Homo sapiens: one gene and its partner. The protein of the gene in region 1 interacts with the protein of each later gene in a biochemical or structural test. Each region holds a gene or a part of one and is shown on either strand. Other genes may lie near its edges.

The links.
Region 2: the proteins of STX6 (region 1) and SNAP23 form a complex in vitro, tested with the Homo sapiens proteins (one study listed by BioGRID).

The regions. Positions count from the first base shown.
Region 1 is NC_000001.11:180,984,715-180,988,370, reverse strand, and holds part of STX6 (syntaxin-6), read left to right. Parts: intron 1-25; coding exon 26-132; intron 133-3,599; coding exon 3,600-3,656. UniProt on the Homo sapiens protein: SNARE promoting movement of transport vesicles to target membranes. Targets endosomes to the trans-Golgi network, and may therefore function in retrograde trafficking.
Region 2 is NC_000015.10:42,509,025-42,512,680, reverse strand, and holds part of SNAP23 (synaptosomal-associated protein 23), read right to left. Parts: intron 849-3,656; 5' UTR 835-848; coding exon 778-834; intron 1-777. UniProt on the Homo sapiens protein: Essential component of the high affinity receptor for the general membrane fusion machinery and an important regulator of transport vesicle docking and fusion.

The DNA.
Region 1 (3,656 bases):
TTATTTCCCATTTCTCTGGCACCAGTTGATCGTGGAACAGCAGGATGAGCAGTTGGAGCTGGTCTCTGGCAGCATCGGGGTGCTGAAGAACATGTCCCAGCGCATCGGAGGGGAGCTGGAGGAACAGGCAGTGTGAGTATTGAGACACCCCTCTCGCTTCAGTGAAATTGAGGGGCAGAGCCATCCTATGACACCCCTAAAAAGCCTGGCAGCTACGTGGCTGGTAAAATCAAAAGCTATTTTATTCATAGCTGCATTTTTATTCTGTTTTACAGATTAGCCTCCCCAAAAGAAGCAATTCTACTTCGTAAATTTTACTACAGGCTTTAGGTGAAGTTGTTATTATTTTTAAACACCTCCAAAAACAGACACAGATGTCTCTGAGCAGATACTCGAAGTATAGTTATGAATGGGAATATGAAACAGAGAAGCCTCTGTAACCTGTGGGAATTTTTGTTCCAGAGAGGATAGGACATGAGCTGACTTTATCATCCCATGACTCTCCTGCTATATTGAACAGACACGTTTTGCTTTGAATCTTAAATTATTGTAACTTTGTTTTTTTTTTTTAAAAAAAACTTACAAATTTAACGCCAGTTAATAAAAACTCTTTCCTCTCAGAAAAATAAATAAAAACAAAACATAACCTCAGTTTGTTTTTCCTTATGAACAATCCCTTTTGCACCCAGAAGTTCGATGGCAAAAACTGCATTCTTAAATGCTGCCACATCATTTTGTAAATCTTTTGAAAGAGAAAAATGAAAAAACAGTCCACCAGGATATTTCAGAAACTTTCCTGTCTCGATATTACGTTTATCATGACACATTGATTGATTATGAATTCTTAGTGGGCCCGTGTTCTACACCGGGCCTTCTGGAAGCCAAGGGATATAGAAGGGAACAGAGCAGACAAGACAACCCATCTCTGCCAAAGAGTTTGCCGCTTGCAGGGTAGAACGGATATTGGGTAAGTGGCGAGGGGTCATTAGGTGATGGCAGTGAAGTGGGAGGGCCCCTGTGATGGGGCCAGTGCATGCTGCCTGGAGAGCCCTGACTTAGCCCAAGGTCCCTGAGGAAGAGGGGTTTAACTGAAATCTGAAGGATGTGTGGATGCTAGCCAGGTGAGGTGAGAGTTGGTGTGGAGGCAGGTGGTGTGGGGTGTGTAGACCAGGAGGAAGAAAATGCACCTGTGAAGATGGAGAGGTGCACACGTGCATGGAGCAGAGAGGTTCCATGTGTCTGGAGGCAGAGAACAAACCAGGGAAGGCCTTGTCAGCATGGTAAGGAGGTACGACTACTTATTCTCAGCATAATGAGAGACCAGTGGAGGTGAGGTGAGGAGTGATGGTGTGATCAGGTGTGATTTAGATGATGTGCTGCAGTGGAGTCAGGTAGGGAGACCAGGTAGGAAGCTGGAGTAGCCAGAATCTGTTTCATGTCTATCTAAAATGGGTCCTGACCCTAAAGTTCAGTTTGAGGAGGGGAAAGGACTAATGGCCTGAGCTTCTCTGTTGATGAGGCAGCCTGGCTGGGCAGTGGGTAATAGAGTCAGAGGGACTTCCAGTTAAAGATGGTGCATTGACACACCCCTACCTCCACTCCCTCTCCACAGCTCACTAGAACAATAGTAAAGGGGTTTGTTTTTAAGGGCATGAAACCGCTGGGCATGGTGGTTCACACCTGTAGTCCCAAGTACTAGGGAAGGAGGCTGAGGTGGGAGGATTGTTTGAGCCCAGGTGTTTGAGGCTGCAGTGAGCTATGATGGCACCACTGTACTCCAACCTGGGTGACAGAGGAGACCCTGTCTCTAAAAAAATAGAAATAACAGATAAATGGGAAAAAGCATGGGATTTGGACTTAGACCTGTGCCATCCAGTATAATAGCTACTAGCCACATGTGGCTGTTGAGTAAGTGTTATGTGGCCAGTCTGAATTGAGATGTGCTCCAGAGGTAAAATGCTTACTGGATTTTGAAGACTTCATATAGAAAAATATAAAATAGCTTATTAATAATTTTTATATTACATGTTGAAATTACAGTATTTTGGCTATATTAAACTAAATACAACAGAATTAATTTCACCTGTTTCTTTTGAAATTTTTACAAACATGGCTACTAGAAAATGTAAAATGGCATATGTGACTCATATTTTTGTTGGATGGTACTGAGATAGATTTGGGCTAGCAACTTGGTTGGTGAGTGTCCATGGACTGAAGGTCGGATGATGTGCCTGATGATGTGCCTGTTTTGTCTTCAGTATGAAAAGTCATACCTAGCGCAGAAAGGTAGCTCTTGCTTTTTAGAGTTTGGCCCTGCCTGGATAGGCCTGCCAGCTGCAGCGCCAAGATGCTGCCAGGATCTAAAATGAGTTAAATATTTTTTAATTTGAAAATTTAGGTAAGGGACAAAGACTTATTTTAGTTGTCAACATATATGTAACAGTTGATTTAATGAAGAGTTGGTTGCCCTGAATCCTGCAAGGCTGTCAGGTGTCTATTGTGGGCACAGATCAAGACCAGGAGTTTCTAACTGCCATTGATGCTGTCAGAGTTAATACAGCCTTTTTAGTAAGACTGTTAGTACTAATTGGCATATTACATTCTAGCCTCAGAATAATCATTTACTAATCAAAAGTTGAAAAGTCTGGAATATTTAGTGACTTATGAAATAGGCACTGCTGAAATAGTATTTTGGGGTTTTCTTTCCCAGCTGCACATTGGACAGCAAATAGTGTAAGCCTGCTGGAGTCAGTTTTCCTAGTGGGAAATACTGGTTTCTCTGTGAGGACAGATGGGGAAATGCGCGTGTGCATGCACAGACACACTGTCACACACCCCATCAGGGATGTTAGTCCTGAGGCCTTCTGGGTTTATAATAAAGCACGTAGTGCCTTATAGGAGGTTATTTTATTAAAGTACATTCCTTAACTCATATTGACATAAAGTGCTTTTGTTTATTACCTGGTTCTCACAAGAGCCCTGTGAGGGAAGTTGAGCTGATAGGATTGCCCTATTTTACAGGTGAGGAAACAGTCCCAAAGAGTTATAGAGTATGTTGTCGAAGGTAGCAATGTAAACAAGTGGCAAAGCCTGGTTGTCTGCCTCAGATAGCATTGTTTCTACCACATTGCACTGCCACTGAGTTTGTGTTATTGTATAGACAGGTCTATAGTCTTGCAGTTCTGAAATCTAGGAAGCTCTAAAGAAATCTCGTTGTTTTTTTTTTCTTTAAATTTGCCGCAAGCTCATGTTACAGAAAAACCTTACCTGAACTGACTCCAACTGTGATTCCTCATAGTTTTCTCTGCAGAAATATTAAGTATCTGATTACGGGGACTGCCCCAGACCCTCCTGGTGGTGTCCTCCTAGTGGTGTCGACTAATACAAAGGATATGTAATTTAGGCTTTTTTTAATCCTGAGAATTCCAAAATCAAAATCCTATCTTGTCCCAAGGATTTTGGATAACAGAGTGAGGTCCTGAAACCCAGTGTTGCCTATTTTGTTTGCTAAAATGGAGGCCTGGTCCTTTTAACCCAGTGCAAGTGCACTGCCAAGGCTTTGTGCTTACCAGCGACCTTCTGTGTCTGCTTCTCTCTAGTATGTTGGAAGATTTCTCTCACGAATTGGAGAGCACTCAGTCCCGGCTGGACAATGT
Region 2 (3,656 bases), on another chromosome or scaffold:
CAATGGCCGGGTGTGGTGGTTCAAGCCTATAATCCCAGCACTTTGGGAGGCTGAGGTGGGCGGATCACGAGGTCAGAAGTTTGAGACCAGCCTGCCCAACAAGGTGAAACCCCATCTCTACTAAAAATACAAAAATTAGCTGGGCGTGGTGGCACACACCTATAATCCCAGCTACTCAGGAGGCTGAGGCAGGAGAATCGCTTGAACACAGGAGGCAGAGGTTGCAATAAGCCGAGATCGCATCACTATACTCCAGCCTGGGCAATAGAGTGAGACTCCGTCTCAAAAAAAAAAAAAAAAAAAAAAGTAAGTTGATCACTACATTTTTAGTTATTTTCAGGCGCTCCTTAAGAGAAAATGTGTAAGGACTTCCAGTGTGATGTTGAAAGAAAAAGTTTTTTTAAAAAAGAGAATATTTGGATGGTGAAGTTCATGGGAATAAAAATTTAATGTAGGTAGAAATCTAAGTAAATTACAGATATTAGGAAATTGTTAAATAGAAGTCTAGCATTTCTCAAATACATAGTAGAGTATCTTTGTTACACTTAAGTAATATTAATAATTACCTAAAAAATAAAAATCATACAAATTGTTTTCACTTTAGTTTTCTGGTGAGTTAAAAAGAAAATAAAAACCAGCAATGGCACTAAGGAGCAAATGTGTTCTTTGATATTAATGGACTAGGAAGAGGCCAAAATGTCCCTAAGAAGGCTCTCTCACTCCTCCAATATGAAAACTGAAATAGAATTATTTACTTATTTTAGGTAAAACATTTACCTCATCAGTAATCTGGTGAGCTCTCTGTTGAATTTCTTCTGATGACAGATTATCCATGATGAATCAAAACTCTATTAGGCACAGAAATGGAAATGTGGATATTGTATAAGAATAAGGATATATAAAAGTTTGTGTGAGCAAAAAGTGTAGATTTATGGAATTTAGGAACTTATCAGGAAAACAGGATAAAAGAACCTCTTTCTATATCTATTAGTCTACCACAAGTAAAGAAATCAAGACCGAGAGAGGCTAAATGAATGTTTAATAAGAGTGCCAAGGGTGAACCTAAAATACAGGTTTTAGGACTTCTAGGGAAGTACTCTTTCCAACAGGAAAGTGGATCCTCTACTTAGAGAAGCAAGGCATTACTGGAAGACAAGCATTAAAAGACTATTAAAGTGAATTTTTGGTTGTTCAATGTTCTTCATGTGTTGTCTGAACATGGAAAAGCAGTAGGTGAAGAAAAGTCCAATTTAGTAAAGTAACAAAATTTGAAGTTATGTGCCTGAAGAACACAGGAAACATTTCTAAATATGCCAGTTGTCCAGGACACTCACTGGAGAAAATACTTTCACTCTTAACAAGAAAAGGGAAATGCTGGTACAAACAGCTCGGAAAAGACTAAGGTTTTTATTATGCATTAGACTCTTCCCCTCCAGTGGCTTATATTGTTTTGTTGTTTTACTGGAGTCCCTAAGAAACCAAACAATTATTCTCCTATACACAGTAACTCAGAAGGAGATCTCATAGACATCCAAGCTAAAAAATAAAACATTTCGTAGGTGTTACTCAGCACGGCTGTTATCTAATTCCTCTTTGAGAAGTCATGTGGAGTAATAACAAGCATTGTGCAACGGATCTAGGTTCTTTGTTACATTTGCTAGCTTTGTATGAATTTTCTCAAAACTCATTTATCAAAACTCACGGTCAATGACACAGATAAACTCTGGTTCTTATTACAGATTTGACCCCAGGAATCTGGCAATGTCTGGAGTTGCTTGATTGTCACAACTTGGGCCAGGTGATGGGGCTGGTTAATGGCATCTAGTAGGTAGAGGCAGGGAAACTGCTTAACATCCTACAACACTCTTCAGGAAAGCCCTCCAGCAAAGAATAATCTGACCCAAAATGTCAATTTGAGGTGAGAAACCTTGCCATGGATATACTCTTTGATAAGCAGAAAACTTAATTCCCCAAGAATGTACTGGACTGAATTCTTGGAAGGCAGAGATTTTATCTTTGTATCTCTAACACCTAATAGGATCTGATGGTAGATACTCCAAAAATAGCTGAATGAACAAATAAGTAGAAAAACAGGGTGTACTCTCAAAGTATTTACATGGCTCTTAGAAACAAAGCTGCATGTAACAGTAGCACAAAGCTCGCAAAGAATCACTAGAGCCACAAACCAAAAACTGCTATTGCAAGTGTATGATATGATCACATATAAATCTTTTCAGTCATTTTTGGCTGGGTGTGGTAGCTCATGACTGGAATCCTAGCACTTTGGGAGGCTGAGGTGAGTGGATGGCTTGAGCTCAGGAGTTGGAGTTCAGCCTGGGCAACATGGCAAAACCCCATCTCTACCAAATATACAAAAATTAGCCAGGCATGGTGGCGCACACCTGTAGTCCCAGCTACCGGGGAGGTTGGGGTGGGCGGATTGCTTGAGTCCAGGAGGTTGAGGCTGAAGTAAGTCAAGATCATGGCACTGCACTCCAGCCTGGGTGACAGAGCAAGACCCTATCTCAAAAAACAAACAAACAAAAAAATTTAAATCTTTTCAGTTGTTTTTAATTGAACCACTACTATCATGTTATTTTTTTTATTTTTTTGAGATGGAGTCTCACTCTGTTGCCCAGGCTGGAGTGCAGTGGTGTAACCCTGACTCACTGCACCTTCTGCCTCCTGGGTTCAAGCAATTCTCCTGCCTCAGCCTCCCAAGGAGCTGGGATTACAGGCATGCACCACCACGCCCCACTAATTTCTGTATTTTTAGTAGAGATGGGGTTTCACCATGTTGGCCAGGCTGATCTCGAACTCCAGACCTCAGGTGATCTATCCACCTCAGCCTCCCAAAGTGCCCAGATTGCAGGCCTGAGCCACCGTGCCTGGCCTTGTTTATAATTCTACTGTCATAGCTGTTTTATGGTTTAAGATTTTGAGGGCCAGGCGCAGTGGCTCACGCCTGTAATCCCAATACTTTGGGAGGCCGAGGCGGATGGATCACGGGGTTAGGAGATCGAGGCCAGCTTGATCGACATGGTGAAACCCCGTTTCTACTAAAAATACAAAAATTAGCCGGGAGTGGTGGTGAGCGCCTGTAATCCCAGCTACTCGGGAGGCTGAGGCAGGAGAATTGCTTGAACCTGGGAGGCAGAGGTTGCAGTGAGCCAAGACTGTGCCACTGCACTCCAGCCTGGGTGACAGAGCGAGACTCCATCTCAAAAAAAAAAAAAAAAAGATTTTGAGCCTTGATTAAAGCCATTAGTGCTCATGAAAAAAAGCATTTTAAGTTCCAAATTTAAGTTTCTATCTTGCTTGCCATAGACTGTGCTTCAGGCAAAAAGTTTCCACACTAAGATATAATCAAGATATAAAGATATCATTCATTAGATACAAGCATAAAAGGAACCAGGTATTTTATTAATTTGCTAATTGTTTGAGTCTTAAGCTTTATCATACATACACATGTCCATGCTACTGTTCCTCTTTTGTCACTCTTTCCTATTTGCAACTACAAAAAGTAAATGGAGATTATTTTTTGTACCCTCTCACCTCCACACTTTTGCACACCTTTCCTTTCTATAATACCCCACATCTGCCCAGGTAGCCTCATGCTTTTCCATCACTTCCTAAAGCCCCAACCGAGATACCTC